2 linked regions of the Homo sapiens genome follow. The protein of the gene in region 1 purifies or fractionates together with the protein of each later gene. This does not show direct contact. Each region holds a gene or a part of one and is shown in the gene's direction. Other genes may lie near its edges.

Evidence for each region. The genes of interacting proteins can lie anywhere in the genome.
Region 2: the proteins of GNA15 (region 1) and WDCP purify together in Homo sapiens (affinity purification with mass spectrometry; 2 studies listed by BioGRID and IntAct, with this or other methods). This does not show direct contact.

The regions. Positions count from the first base shown.
Region 1 is NC_000019.10:3,159,378-3,165,333, forward strand, and holds the end of GNA15 (guanine nucleotide-binding protein subunit alpha-15), read left to right. Parts: intron 1-3,415; coding exon 3,416-3,642; 3' UTR 3,643-4,372; downstream 4,373-5,956. UniProt on the Homo sapiens protein: Guanine nucleotide-binding proteins (G proteins) are involved as modulators or transducers in various transmembrane signaling systems.
Region 2 is NC_000002.12:24,029,271-24,038,009, reverse strand, and holds the end of WDCP (WD repeat and coiled-coil-containing protein), read left to right. Parts: coding exon 1-333; intron 334-4,752; exon of another isoform or gene 4,753-4,804; intron 4,805-5,063; coding exon 5,064-5,181; intron 5,182-6,847; coding exon 6,848-7,077; 3' UTR 7,078-8,663; downstream 8,664-8,739.

The DNA.
Region 1 (5,956 bases):
CTCTTTTTGCCCAGGCTGGAGTGCAATGGCACAATCTCGGCTCACCGCAACCTCCGCCTCCCGGGTTCAAGGGATTCTCCTGCCTCAGCCTCCCGAGTAGCTGGGATTGCAGGCATGAGCCACCACCCCGGCTAATTTTGTGTTTTTAGTAGAGACGGGGTTTCTCCATGTTGGTCAGGCTGGACTTGAACTCCCGACCTCAGGTGATCCACCCGCCTCGGCCTCAAAGTGCTGGGATTACAGGCGTGAGCCACCACACCTGGCCTTTCTCTTTAATTTTTAAAGCAGAGCTTTGAACAATGTTTCCAAAGCACACAGCTTAGTTTTGTAATACAATGACCTTCTTTCATGCGGCACTTGTAGCTACAGATTTGCATAACGTTTCTTTTAATTACATATGAATCAAGACACGTACAATGGGCAAAAACAGGTTTGGGAACAAACTCTCAGTCCATCCAGAGGGTGAAAGGGCCACAGGGCAACTACAGAGAAACACCATCTAGTGTTGGGCACCACTTAGTATATTTTACAAAGGGGAGGCAGAGTTGTGGTTAATCCAGGGACCAACGTGGGGAAGGTACATATTCACTAGCACTTTCCCCAGAACACCACTGTGAGGATAAAGTGTGGTGGCGGGTGTCCTGCTTAGCTACTGCCGAGTAACAAACCATCCCCAAACTTAGTGACTTAAACTGGTCATTTTCCTTTGCTTATGATTTTGTGGGTCAGGAATTTGGGAAAGGTTGAGCTGGGTAAGTTCATCTCTGATCCATGTGACATCAGCTGGGCTCTATGGGATTGGAGATAAACTTCCAAGATGGCTTCTTCCCCCATATGTCTGGTGCCTTGGTGCTCTTGGCACTCTTGGCCTCTCTCTCTGTGTCTCTCCCTGCCTCCCTCTCCCATCTCATCTCTCTCTCCTCCCCTTTCTCCTAGTCTGTCTCTCCTTTTCCACCTCCCCTGTTCTCTCTGTCTCCATCTGGGGCCTCATGATCCACAGCCTCTTCACATGGTTTGAGCTTACTCACAATATGGCTGCCTCAGGGTAGACAGACTTCAGCCCAGGTGGAAGCTGCTTCTCATGATAGCCTCAGAAATGTCAGACGTTACTCTGCCACATTCTATTTGTCAAGCACATCACTCATATCAGCCCGGATTCAAAAGAAAGAGACTCCATCTCTTGAAGGCAGCATGACACATGCATACAGGGAGGGAAGGAAGTGACGGCAGCCATCTTGGAGATAACTTGCCTTCATGTCCTGGGGATGCCGTAACAAAGTACCACAAACTGGGTGGCTTAAAACAACAGGAAACAACAGAAGTCCAAAGTTAAGGTATTGGCAAGGTTGGTTCCTTTTGGAGGCTCTAAGGGAAAATCCATTCCATGCTTCTCTCTCAGCTTCTGGTGGTGGCCTACAATCCTTAGCTTGTAGACATATCACTGCAATCTCTGCCTCCATGTTCACATGGCTGTCTTCTCACCATGCCTTTATGTGTCCTCTCCTGTTGTTATAAGGCCACCAGTCATTGGATTTAGGGCCCATACTTTGGTATGACCACTTTTTTTTTTTTTTTTTTTTTTTGAGACAAGGTCTTGCTCTGTTGCCCAGGCTAGAGTCCAGTGGTGTGATCACAGTTCACTGCAGCCTCAACCTCCTGGGCACAGGTGATCCTCCCACCTCAGCCTCTTGAGTTGCTGGGACTACAGGCGCACACCACCACACCTGGGTAATTTTTGTATATTTCTGTAGAGACAGGGTTTCGCCATGTTGCCCAGGCTGATCTGGAACTCCTGGGCCCAACCACACATCTGTCATCCACCTGCCTTGGCCTTCCAAAGTGCTAGGATTACAGGCGTGAGCCCTCATGCCTGGCCATGACCTAATTTAACTTAACTAATTACATCTGCAAATATCCGATTTCTAAAAGTCATATTCTGAAGTTCCAGGTGGACATGAATTTTGGGGGACACTGTTCACCTCAATATACAAGCAACCATAGTAGATGAGTCCTTAGTACATGCTTGACACCAGGTCCACAATCAGTAAACATAAACTTTGGTGAAGTCACCAGGTTTTGATCCCTGGTCTTGTCATGTCTCAGAGCCCATGAGGCCAATTTTAGCCAATTATACCCACAAGATTCAGGGTCTGGGAGATAGACGTCAAGTTGTTCCAGGATGGTGGCCTGGATAGCCCCTCTTCCTTGCCAAGCAGCCCTGGGAATCAGCTCATAGTTTAGAGAATTTGGGAACAGGATAAGGTAGATATTTTTTTCATTCAGGTCAAAGGGAACCACCCATGACTCATCCTTGTCTCCCAGCACAAGTGACTGGTGCACTCTTTGCTGACTCCCAGCCCTACCCTCCACTGTGCTAAATAATATTTGTGATAATAATAAGAAACCACACTTTGGGAGGCTGAGGCGCGCAGATCGCTTTAGGTCAGGAGTTTGAGACCAGCCTGGCCAACATGGCAAAGCCCCATCTCTGTTAAAAATACAAAAATTAGCTGGGTGTGGTGGCGGGGGCCTGTCATCCCAGTTACTCGGGAGGCTGAGGCAGGAGAATCGCTTGAACCCAGGAGGTGGAGGTTGCAGTGAGCTGAGATCATGCCACTTCACTCCAACCTGGGTGACAGAGTGAGACTCTGTCTCAAAATAATAATAATAATAATAATGATAATAATAATAAAATTGATAACAGCAGCTAACACATCTACCGCACTGGTGGAAGCACTCTACAAAGCTTCTTTAATCTTCATGTTAAAACCCTATGCAGGGCTGGGCACAGTGGCTCACGCCTGTAATCCCAGCGCTTTGGGGGGGTCAAGGCGGGCTGATCATTTGAGGTCAGGAGTTCGAGACCAGCCTGGCCAACATGGCAAAACCCCATCTCTACTAAAAATACAAAAATTACCTGGGCATGGTGGCAGGCGCCTGTAATCCCAGCTACTGCCAAGATTGCACCATTGCACTCCAGCCTGGGCGACAGAGCGAGGCCCCATCTCAAGAAAAAAAAAAAGAGGACTCTCTTCCCCTCGTTTGGCCTTGATGCCGCCATCTTCACAGTCCTGGGATATTTGTCTATGCGATTCCAGTCTTCCAACTGCACTGGCTGTAAGCGAGGCCAAGAGAGTGTCTCTCTTTAACACAGTTCTGCCCGAAGTCCCAGAGCTGGGTCTCATTGGTCCATTTCAGGTCACATGACTCGTGTGAGACAATCTCCTGTGTTCCCATTGGCTGGGCCGGAGTCGTGTGACCAGCTATGACTACAAAAGATGGAGTCAACGCACAGAAAAATGACAGGCGCGATCCCTGGGTCCCTTCAGTGCTGGTTACAGGGAAGAGGGTCTCCAGAGGCCCCCTGGGTCCAAAGAGGGAGGGTCCTCACCCCCTTCCCACACTGTTTCCCCAGGCCCTAAGCAGGATGCTGAGGCAGCCAAGAGGTTCATCCTGGACATGTACACGAGGATGTACACCGGGTGCGTGGACGGCCCCGAGGGCAGCAAGAAGGGCGCACGATCCCGACGCCTCTTCAGCCACTACACATGTGCCACAGACACACAGAACATCCGCAAGGTCTTCAAGGACGTGCGGGACTCGGTGCTCGCCCGCTACCTGGACGAGATCAACCTGCTGTGACCCAGGCCCCACCTGGGGCAGGCGGCACCGGCGGGCGGGTGGGAGGTGGGAGTGGCTGCAGGGACCCCTAGTGTCCCTGGTCTATCTCTCCAGCCTCGGCCCACACGCAAGGGAGTCGGGGGACGGACGGCCCGCTGCTGGCCGCTCTCTTCTCTGCCTCTCACCAGGACAGCCGCCCCCCAGGGTACTCCTGCCCTTGCTTGACTCAGTTTCCCTCCTTTGAAAGGGAAGGAGCAAAACGGCCATTTGGGATGCCAGGGTGGATGAAAAGGTGAAGAAATCAGGGGATTGAGGACTTGGGTGGGTGGGCATCTCTCAGGAGCCCCATCTCCGGGCGTGTCACCTCCTGGGCAGGGTTCTGGGACCCTCTGTGGGTGACGCACACCCTGGGATGGGGCTAGTAGAGCCTTCAGGCGCCTTCGGGCGTGGACTCTGGCGCACTCTAGTGGACAGGAGAAGGAACGCCTTCCAGGAACCTGTGGACTAGGGGTGCAGGGACTTCCCTTTGCAAGGGGTAACAGACCGCTGGAAAACACTGTCACTTTCAGAGCTCGGTGGCTCACAGCGTGTCCTGCCCCGGTTTGCGGACGAGAGAAATCGCGGCCCACAAGCATCCCCCCATCCCTTGCAGGCTGGGGGCTGGGCATGCTGCATCTTAACCTTTTGTATTTATTCCCTCACCTTCTGCAGGGCTCCGTGCGGGCTGAAATTAAAGATTTCTTAGAGGCTGCGTCGCCAGCGTCCTGTTTATCCCCTCTGCATTCCTTTCTCGGCTTACGTGTCCCGGGGGCAGTGCTTACAGTGCGGGGAGCAACGTGGAGTAGGAAGGAAAAAAGTTATACTTCTTGTCTACCCACCTGTCCTGGCCATGGTACCCAGAACTGTGGAGGCTGTGAGTCCCGCAAGCCGGGACGTGGAGTCCAACCTCCCTCCCAGGCTGGGGGGGACATTGAAGCAGACTCCTCCGTGGCTACTGACCTGAAATTCCAGTAGCAGCCCCCACCCAGCTTTGAGAAGGCCTCTTACTATCCTCAGGGCAGTGTTCTGGGGTGCAAGCCGTAGCACCCCACTTTACAGGTGAGGAAACCGGGGCGCAGAGAAGTGGAGTAATTTGACTAAGCTCACACACCTGGAATTGACAGAGGCAGGAGCCTGTTCCTACGTTGAACACATTTGTGGTTTTTTATTTGTTTGTTTTTTGAGACAATCTCACTTGGTTGCCCAGGCTGGAGTGCAGTGGTGCGATCTCGGTTCACTGCAGCCTCTGCCTCCTGGGTTCAAGTGATTCTCATGCCTCAGCCTCTGCAGTAGCTGAGATTACAGGCACCCGCCACCACACCTGGCTACTTTTTTTTTTTTTGATGGAGTCCCGCTCTGTGGCCCAGGCTGGAGTGCAGTGGCGCAATCTCGTCTCACTGCAACCTCCACCTCCCAGGTTCAAGTGATTCTCCTGCCTCAGCCTCCTGAGTAGCTTGGACTACAGTTGTGTGCCATCACACCTGGCCATATTTTTGTATTTTTAGTAGAGACAGGGTTTCACCATGTTGGCCAAACTGGTCTCAAACTCCTGACCTCAAGTGATCCGCCTCCCTCGACCTCCCAAAGTGCTGGGATTACAGGCATGAGCCACCACACCTGGCCTAATTTTTCTTCTTATAAAAACACTAGTCACACTGGATCAGGGTCCAGCCTGTCATCCCCATCTTAACTTGATTACATCGGCAAAGACCGTATTTCTAAATAAGGTCCCATTCACAGATACCGGGGGTTATGACTTCATCATATCTTTGTAGGGGAGCCACATTTGAACCTATAAAAGGTATTTTGTAATACAAAAAGGAGCCGGGCGTGGTGGTGCATGCTTGCAATCCCAGCTAATTGGGAGGCTGAAGCATGAGAGTTGCTTGAACCCGGGAGGCGGAGGTTGCGGTGAGCCAAGATCCTGCCACTGCACTCTAGCCTGAGCGACAGAGTGAGACCTTGTCTCAAATAATAAATAAATAAATACATAAATAAATAAATAAATATAAAAGTATGTTATAGAAACCCTCTCCACTGAGTTTGGTCTGACATTTTGCTGCTGGTCAGACTGGGGTGATGGGTTTCAGGGAGGAAGACCTCAGTGGTGACAGCCCTTCTCACCACATCCTATCTTTCTGTTTTTTTTTTGAGACGGAGTCTCACTCTGTCACCCAGGCTGGAAGTGCAGTGGTGTGATCTCGGCTCACTGCAAGCTCCGCCTCCCAGGTTCACACCATTCTCCTGCCTCAGCCTCCCGAGTAGCTGGGATTACAGGCGCCCGCCACCACGCCTG
Region 2 (8,739 bases), on another chromosome or scaffold:
ATTAAAGAAATCCAGAGTCCTCTGTCTAGTATCTGTGATGGCTCCATAGCTCTAGATGCTGAGCCTGTTACCCAGCCAGCATCGCTGCCCAGACACAGCAGCACACCAGACCACACCAGCACACTGGAGCCTCCTCGTTTGCCTCAAAGAAAGAACTTACAAAGTGAAAAGGAAACTTATCAGCTGTCTAAGGAAGTGGAAATTTTATCTAGGAACCTGGTTGAAATGCAACGGTGTCTTTCTGAACTTACAAACCGTCTGCATAATGGGAAGAAATCCTCTTCAGTGTATCCACTCTCTCAAGATCTTCCTTATGTTCACATCATTTACCAGGTAAATTCTCCTTTGAGGAACTACCACTATACATAAAAGCTCCTGCAGCCGGTGAGTACTGCAAGAAACGTATTGATGAGGAAGATGGTGCTCTAACTGAGCTTCACTAAGCTGGGCATGTTATGTTACAGGCAAGTTGGTACACCTTTGCAGGTTGGTTGGTTTTTAGCCTGCCAACCAGATAGGCGCACATATCAGTCTGCATCATGATTTTATCAGGTGCATGACGTGGAAAAATAAATGTCTGCACTAATTCGGGCAATTTATATTTAGAAAAAAAATCATGTTATTTCATTGTGACAACCTTTTCCTTATATAATAGAGATACTCCTCCAGTTATAAAAAAGGTTATGTTGCTGGGCTCCATGGCTCACGCCTGTAATCCTAGCACTTTGGGAGGCCGAGGCAAGTGGATCACCTGAGGTCAGGAGTTCGAGACCAGCCTGGCCAATGTGGTGAAACCCTGTCTCTAACAAAAATATAAAAATTAGCTGGGCATGGTGATGGGCGCCTGTAATCCCAGCTACTTGGGAAAGCAGGAGTATCACTTGAGCCCGGGAGGCACAGGTTTCAGTGAGCCGAGACTGTGCCACTGCACTCCAGCCTGGGCAACAGGGCGAGACTCCGTCTCAAAGAAAAAGGAAAAGGTTATGTTCATTTAAAATGTTTTGATGCATTTCTTTATGCATGCATGTCCAAACATTATATAAGTGGGATCATATTATACATGTTTTTATCATGGACACTTTCCTCCTATATAAAATATGGCCTTGCCCCATCTTCCCCTTAATCCGCTGTAACCAGCAGCTTAACATGGATCCTTTCGTGACTTTCTCCATGGTCACATGATCTAACACAGGTCTTTGTGTACATAGATATATAGGTATGTGGGAATGGTTTGTCATTGTTTTTACAAAAATAGGGTGATATGGTGCACTCTTTACTTCATACTGAGAGTATGCTCTTTATTTAGCCATTCCCTTGTTGATTGACATTCACTTTGTTTTTAGTTTTTAGCTACTCCAAATGATGCTGCAGTAGTACTCTTATATGTATCCATTCATATTAGTACCTTTATTTCTGTTGGATTGGTTCCCAGAAGTAGAAATGCAAATTTGAAGAGTATATGTGTTTCTACTTTTAATTGAGTTACCAGATTGCCTCTCAAAGATTTTTACTTAACAGTGCATCATCACACGCCCGCCAGCTATGTATAAGGCTGTCCTTTTCCTCGTATGTCACCAATCTGATCAGTGACCCTCCTGCTTCAGCCTCCTGAGCAGCTGAGACTACAAGCACATGCCACCACACTTGGCTAATTTTTTTTTTTTTTAGCAGAGACAGGATCTTGCTATGTTGCCTAGGCTGATCATGACCTCCTGGGCTCAAGTGATAGTCTTGCCTCAGCCTCCCAAAGTGCTGGGATTACAGGTGTGTGCCACTGCATGTGGCCCCAACCCTACATTTTTTTAAAGAGGATTTTTGCCACATTAACTACATGGAGTTTTCAGTAGTAGAGTTTTAATTTTTTTTTTTAAGTCACAGCTTTGCTGTGAGGAGCATTTTATTTTATTTATTTATTTATTTATTTATTTATTTATTTATTTATTTTTGAGACGGAGTCTCTGTCACCAGGCTGGAGTGCAGTGGCGCGATCTCAGCTCGCTGCAACCTCCAACTCCCAGGTTCTAGCAATTCTCCTGCCTCAGCCTCCCAAGTAGCTGGGATTACAGGCACGTGCCACCACACCTGGCTAATTTTTGTATTCTTAGTAGAGGCGGGGTTTCACCGTGTTGGCCAGGATGAGCTCAATCTCCTGACCTTGTGATCTGCCCGCCTTGGCCTCCCAGAGTGCTGAGATTACACGTGTAAGCCACTGCGCCCGGCCTAATTTTTTTTTAATTAAAAAAAATTTTTTTTTAACTATAGAGACAAGGTCTTGCTATGTTGCCCAGGCTTGTTTGGAAGTCCTGGGCTCAAGCAGTCCTCCTGCTTCAGCCTCCCAAAGCGCTGGGATTACAGGTGTGAGCCACTGCACCCAGCCATAGTTTTGATTTTTTTAAAATTATTTTATTTATAAATGTGATAACTGGTTTGGATTTCTTTCCTACTATGACTTTTTAAAGAGTTTGTTTTCTTTTTCTTCTGTCTTTTTTTAATAGGTAATTCATTTATTTGGTTTAAAAAGCAAAACTGTATTTTAATAAAAACTGTATACCAAGAACTCTTATTCCTACCCTATGTTTCTTCAGCCTGTTCTCCTTTCCTCCTTTAGGTAACCATTTTTATTTTTATTTCTTTATGCAGATACTAGCAGACTTTAGTTATGTATTTTTATTTCCCCTTTTGTTACACAAAAGGGAAGGTGATATACACACCTTTTCATTTTCCATTTAATAGTATGTCCTAGAGAGCTCTTTATATCAGCACACAGAGCTCTTTTTTCATCTTTTTTTCCACAGCTGCATAGTATTTTTTTTTCCTAATTACAAAAGTAATATATACTTGTTGAGGAAAAAAATTTTACCATTACAGAAAGTAAAAATTTTCCATAATCCAACCTTTAGAGAAAATCACAGATATAGCTAAATATTTTATTAGATGTTAGATGTAAATATTTCCATATTTTTTCTGTACATTTATCTAATCCAAAAAAAATCTAATATAAAAATATATTATTTTTAAAATTTTCTTTAAATAGGCTATTTTACTTGCAAACAATAATATATCTTTCTGTTTTTAAAACACTTATAAATGTAAAATTTTATATTTTTAAAAACTAAGGTTAAAACAACCATGTTTGGCCAGGCACAGTGGCTTAAACCTGTAACCCCAGAACTTTGGGAGGCCGAGATGGGTAGATCACTTGAGTCCAGGAGTTCGAGACCAGCCTGGGCAGCATGGCAAAACCCTGTCTCTACCGAAAAATACAAAAATTAGCCAGCCGTGATGGCACCCACCTGTTTTCCCAGCTACTTGGGAGGCTGAGGTGTGAGGATCACCTAAGCTGAGGAGGTTGAGGCTGCAGTGAGCTGTGATCGTGCCACTGCACGCCAGCCTGGGAAACAGAGCAAGACTCTGTCTCAAAAAAAAAAAAAAAAAGTTTTGTTGCCCTTTCAATTCCTCAGTTTTTTAGTTTATAATTATGTCATCCAACCAAGCTGTTGTCAGTAGTTATCTCTGGAGGATAGAATTTTGGGGGCTTTACTGTCTGCATTATATATTTCTGTTATATTTTTATTTTATTTATTTATTTTTAGATAGAGCTTTGCTTTGTCACCCAGGCCGGAGTGCAGTGGCGCGATCTTGGCTCACTGCAACCTCCGCCTCCTGGGTTCAAGCGATTCTCTGCCTCAGCCACCCAGGTAGTTGGGATTACAGGTGTGCACCACCACACCCAGCTAATTTTTGTATTTATAGTAGAGATGGGGTTTCACCATGTTGGCCAGGCTGGTCTCGAACTCCTGACCTCAAGTGATCCACCCGCCTTGGCCTTCCAAAGTTCTGGGATTACAGGCGTGAGCCACCACACCCGGCCCTATTATACTTTTAAAAAATTGATCATTTATTCCTTTTGTAATGAGAAAAGTAAAAGTTACACAATAATCAAAAGCAAGAAATAGTTTCCCCTGTAATTTCAGAAATTACATTTCATAAGACGTGAAATAAATGATTAGTTGGTTTTGACTTTTACAGTTTATTCCTGTGACTTCATTTAAAAATATTAGTGGACATATTCTTTGAGTGGTTCATCCTACCACAGTGATGTATAGTTTTATTTTCTTTTTATGAGATGGGGTCTTGCCATGTTGCCCAGGCTGCTCTCCAATACCTGGGCTCAAGCAATCCATGCACTCTGGCCTCCCAAAGTGCTTAACAACAAAATAAGTTAGACACATAACTTATACAACTGTCCTTCATTTATTTATTTATTTAGAGATGGAGTCTGTCTCTGTCACTCAGCCTGGAGTACAGTGGCACCTTCTCAGCTCACTGCAACCTTTGCCTCCTGGGTTCAAGTGATTCTCCTACCTCAGCCTCCCGAGTAGCTGGGACTACAAGTGTGTACCACCATGCCTGGCTAACTTTTTTATTTTTTGTAAAGACAGGGTTTTGCCATATTGCCCAGGCTGGTCTTGAACTCCTGGGCTCAAGTGATCTGTCCATCTTAGCCTCCCAAACTTTTGGTACTAAGGGGTGAGCCACTGTGCCCAGCCAATTTTTAATGACTTTAAAATTTACAAATCATTTATTTTTATTTGTGCTTTTTCTAAGCTATGTGAATTTTGACCATGGTTTGTTTATTTTATGCAAATCCTCTGCTACTCTACCACTTAGGACACTCTCTCGGCATTTTTTTTCCTAATAAACCATGAGGTGTCTTAGCTATATCTGAAACAGCCAAGAAGGTGTTCTTACCGTCAGATTGTGTCTCTCAGGCTGCTGTCCATCATCCTTTTAGTGTTATTAGTTGTATTCTAGGAGAGCCAGTTCCTAGTGATGAAGAACCCTGAGGAAAGAGTAGAACAAAAGGAAAAATAAGGCTGTTTTGTTCGGATTTTTTAGTTGTGTTAAATAATGCAGCAAAGAGCTCCTTAAAACTGAAGTCCAGTTGATTAGTGGTAATAGATAAGAATTTTTTAAAAAACTATTTACACATTCCTTTCTTAAGAAATGTTAACTCGATTACTTCTGCAATCAGTTTAACAACTTTTATTTTTTATTTGCAGAAACCTTATTATCTAGGTCCTGTTGTTGAAAAAAGAGCGGTGCTTCTCTGTGATGGTAAACTAAGGCTCAGTACAGTTCAGCAGACTTTTGGCCTTTCTCTCATTGAAATGCTACATGGTAGGTCGTGCTCAGAAATTGACCCTAGCTAACATCCTTGCCTCCCCCACCATCTGTTTTAACTATGCCGGTAATGAAAATGAGGGATACCAACCATTCAGTAATTCACTGGATAGTTAACAAGTAATCTATTATTATTATTATTATTGAGACAGGGTCTTGCTCTGTTGCCCAGGCCAGAGTGCCTCGGTGTGATCATAGCTCACTGCAGCCTCGAACTCCTGAGCTCAAGCAATCCTCCCATCTCAGACTCCCAACTAGTGAGAACTATAGGTGTTCACTACCATGCCCAGCCAAGTTTTGTTTGTTTGTTTGTTTGTTTTTTGGAGATGGAGTCTTGCTCTGCCACCCGGTCCTGGAGTACAGTGGCGCAGTCTCAGCTCACTGCAACCTCCGCCTCCCGGGTTCAAGCAATTCTCCTGTCTCAGCCTCCTGAGTAGCTGGGACTACAGGCGCACGCTGCCATGCCTGGCTAATTTTTTGTATTTTCGTAGAGACGGGTTTCACTGTGTTGCCCAGGCTGAGCTCAGGCAATCCGCCTGCCTCGGCCTCCCAAAGTGCTGGGATTAAAGGCGTGAGCCACTGCACCCAGCCTCAGCCAAGTTTAAAAAAAATGTTTGTAGATAACGGGGTCTCACTCTGTTGCCCAGGCTGGTCTTGAACTCCTGACCTCAAGTGATCCGTCCACCTTGGCCTCCCAAAGTGCTATGATTACTGGCATAAGCCACCACACCCAGCCTTAACAAATATTATTAATTGCCTACTATATACCCAGGCCTAGTATAGGTGCCAAAACATATGGAAAATATGCACCCTGCCCTTAGGGAACTTACAGCCTAGCTGGAAAAGTTAAATGTACATATGAAAAAATAAGAAAAGACTTACAAAGCAGTGTATAACAACTGCAAGGAAGTAACAGAAAGCCTCATTTATTTCTGTTGCACTAAAATGTAAAGATCATAGCAGCATTGCAGAATGTTTCTTTCTTTCTTTTTTTTTTTTTGAGACCGAGTCTCACTCTGTCACCCAGGCTGGAATGCAGTGGCATGATCTCGGCTCACTGCAACCTCCGCCTCCTGGGTTCAAGCGATTCTCCTGCCTCAGCCTCCCGAGTAGCTGGGACTACAGGCACATGCCACCACGCCTGGCTAATATTTTGTATTTTTAGTAGAAATGGGGTTTCACCATGTTAGCCAGGATGGTCTCGATCTCCTGACCTCGAGATCTGCCCGCCTCGGCCTCCCAAAGTGGTGGGATTATAGGCGTGAGCCACTGCGCCCGGCCTACAGAATATTTCTTTGAGGAGTTGCCATTCTAATATGGAGTAAACATGGATGTTCAAAGGATATTCCTAAGTGGCAAGGGACTGAGTCATGCCAGATTCATCAGATGTGGAGCATGGTTGTTTTCTTATGCCTCATTCTTGTAACAGTAGCCACCACATTGAACATCAAATATCATTTCATTTTTTCCCCTTTTTCTCCTACCTGACCCTAAGTAATACCCAGTCTTCCCAATACCCCATTCTCTGTAAAATCTTACAAGGATTGAGTTGAATATTATCAACTACTATATTCCTTCACTCAGAAAAAAAAATTTGTAGTCATATGTTTCATCATAAGAATAATATATACTAAATTGCCTGTGTATTTATTTTTATTTGCAGATTCCCACTGGATTCTTCTCTCTGCTGACAGTGAGGGCTTTATCCCGTTAACCTTCACAGCCACACAGGAAATAATCATAAGAGATGGCAGCCTGTCCAGGTCAGATGTCTTCAGAGACTCTTTTTCTCACAGTCCAGGTGCTGTTTCTTCTCTTAAAGTCTTTACAGGCCTTGCTGCCCCCAGTTTAGATACCACTGGCTGTTGTAACCATGTAGATGGCATGGCTTGATATCTGCAGTGTCCTTGCTGTGTAGCTCTTCAGATGAGACCATTACAAACAAGGCCTGCTTGACACTGGACACTCGCCAATGAGACTCCCACTGCACTCAGGCGAAGCGCTTGCCATGGTCGGCTCTCCTGGTTTCCCCCTGTTTCCCCTGAGCTGAGGCTCGCTGCTGTGTAGCAGAGCTCAGTCTTTATTAGATGGCTCCGAAAGTGGTGTTTATGTATTCATGACTGTGTGGTTTTGACTAAGGGCAGAATTCTCAGAACAAAACAATATTATGGTGCCATATGGATGGTGTTTTATGGTTTCTCTGAGGCTTTGTGTCCCTTGTCCAAAGCTGCATTGAAGCTGTCTTAGGAGCACTTAAAAGATACCTTGGCATTGTTATAGGTCTTTTTCTTGGCTTCAAGAGGAGGTTGAGGAGTCTGCTGGGGGGCATGTGCTCTAGCATATTAACCTCAAACCAGCAAGAATTAGCAGAGCTCCAAGGAGGACCAGAGACCCACTGGCTTCTGCTCTCAGGAACAGGAAGTGGCTCTGATGTTGCCTGGACCTCCCAGAATTTAAACCAAACCCTCTTGCTTCCTTAACAAATTCTGGCTGACGAAGGTCCAGGTACTCTTAAAAACTGGCCCTGGGAAAATTTTGAATGAAATTTCAAGGGAATTTGTCCCCTCTGGGTTCCACTTGAGGTTGTGCCGATGCTGCTACCACACTGTCGAGCCCAGGTAAGTCCTACTGCAGGATTTTGTGCTGTGGCCACTCATGAGTGTCCCTGAAATAACTTTTTTTTTTTTTAAATCCAGTTTTGGGATCACGCAACTTTCCTATTTTTCTCCCAGTAGTCAGCTCCCTTAGTTAACTTGTCACTTTAATTTGATATTTTTATTTTCTCTCCTTTTAAGTCTTAGAGACCAGCAGAGAATCTGTGAGAGAAAGTATTTCAGGAAGTTAGAAATTCAACCGAATCTGAGGTAGTCCTAAAAAGTGCCATTTTGTTTCACTTATGGGCTAAAGTACCAGCTTAGTCAGGTAAGAGCCCTGACCCACTTCAGATGGTAACACCACTTCTCACTGCCTTCAGATGGAATCACAGATTTCAGTCACGGCGCATAACAAATTGATCAGTGAGTGGCTAGGCATCTGCAGATAAATTGTTTCAGCCATAGAAGCTCCATTAGCACATATGCTTCCTTTTCCCCCCTTCCTTTAAAATCATCTGGAAAGAAACTATTTTGTGCCCTTGGGGACTCCTGTCTGTCTGTTACAGTTTACCAAGATGGAGCTGGGTTAGGAAAGAAGTGAGGGCCCATTTTGTGGTTCAAGTGCACTAGACAGCTGCTGGGGTAGGAAGCACAGGCAATGTCTGTAATCAGCTGTGGGAGAGCAGTGACTGAGAACAGTCTGAGGCCTGGCTCCACTTGGAAGTATCTGGGGTGCGATGAAATCACAATTATCTTGAAGCCTAAAGAGGGAACTACAAGACTGTTAACTAAGATCAATGTGGGCACCTAAAAGGGTATGTTAAAATCACCATTTCTCAGGTCAAAATACTGTGAATAAGTCTTCAATAAAATCACTAATGGTTATTGTGGCTGTTTTGGATGTTTTGGTAGTATTTTCTTTGCGATTATTGCTGCTATAGAGGAACCGGCAATAATCTTG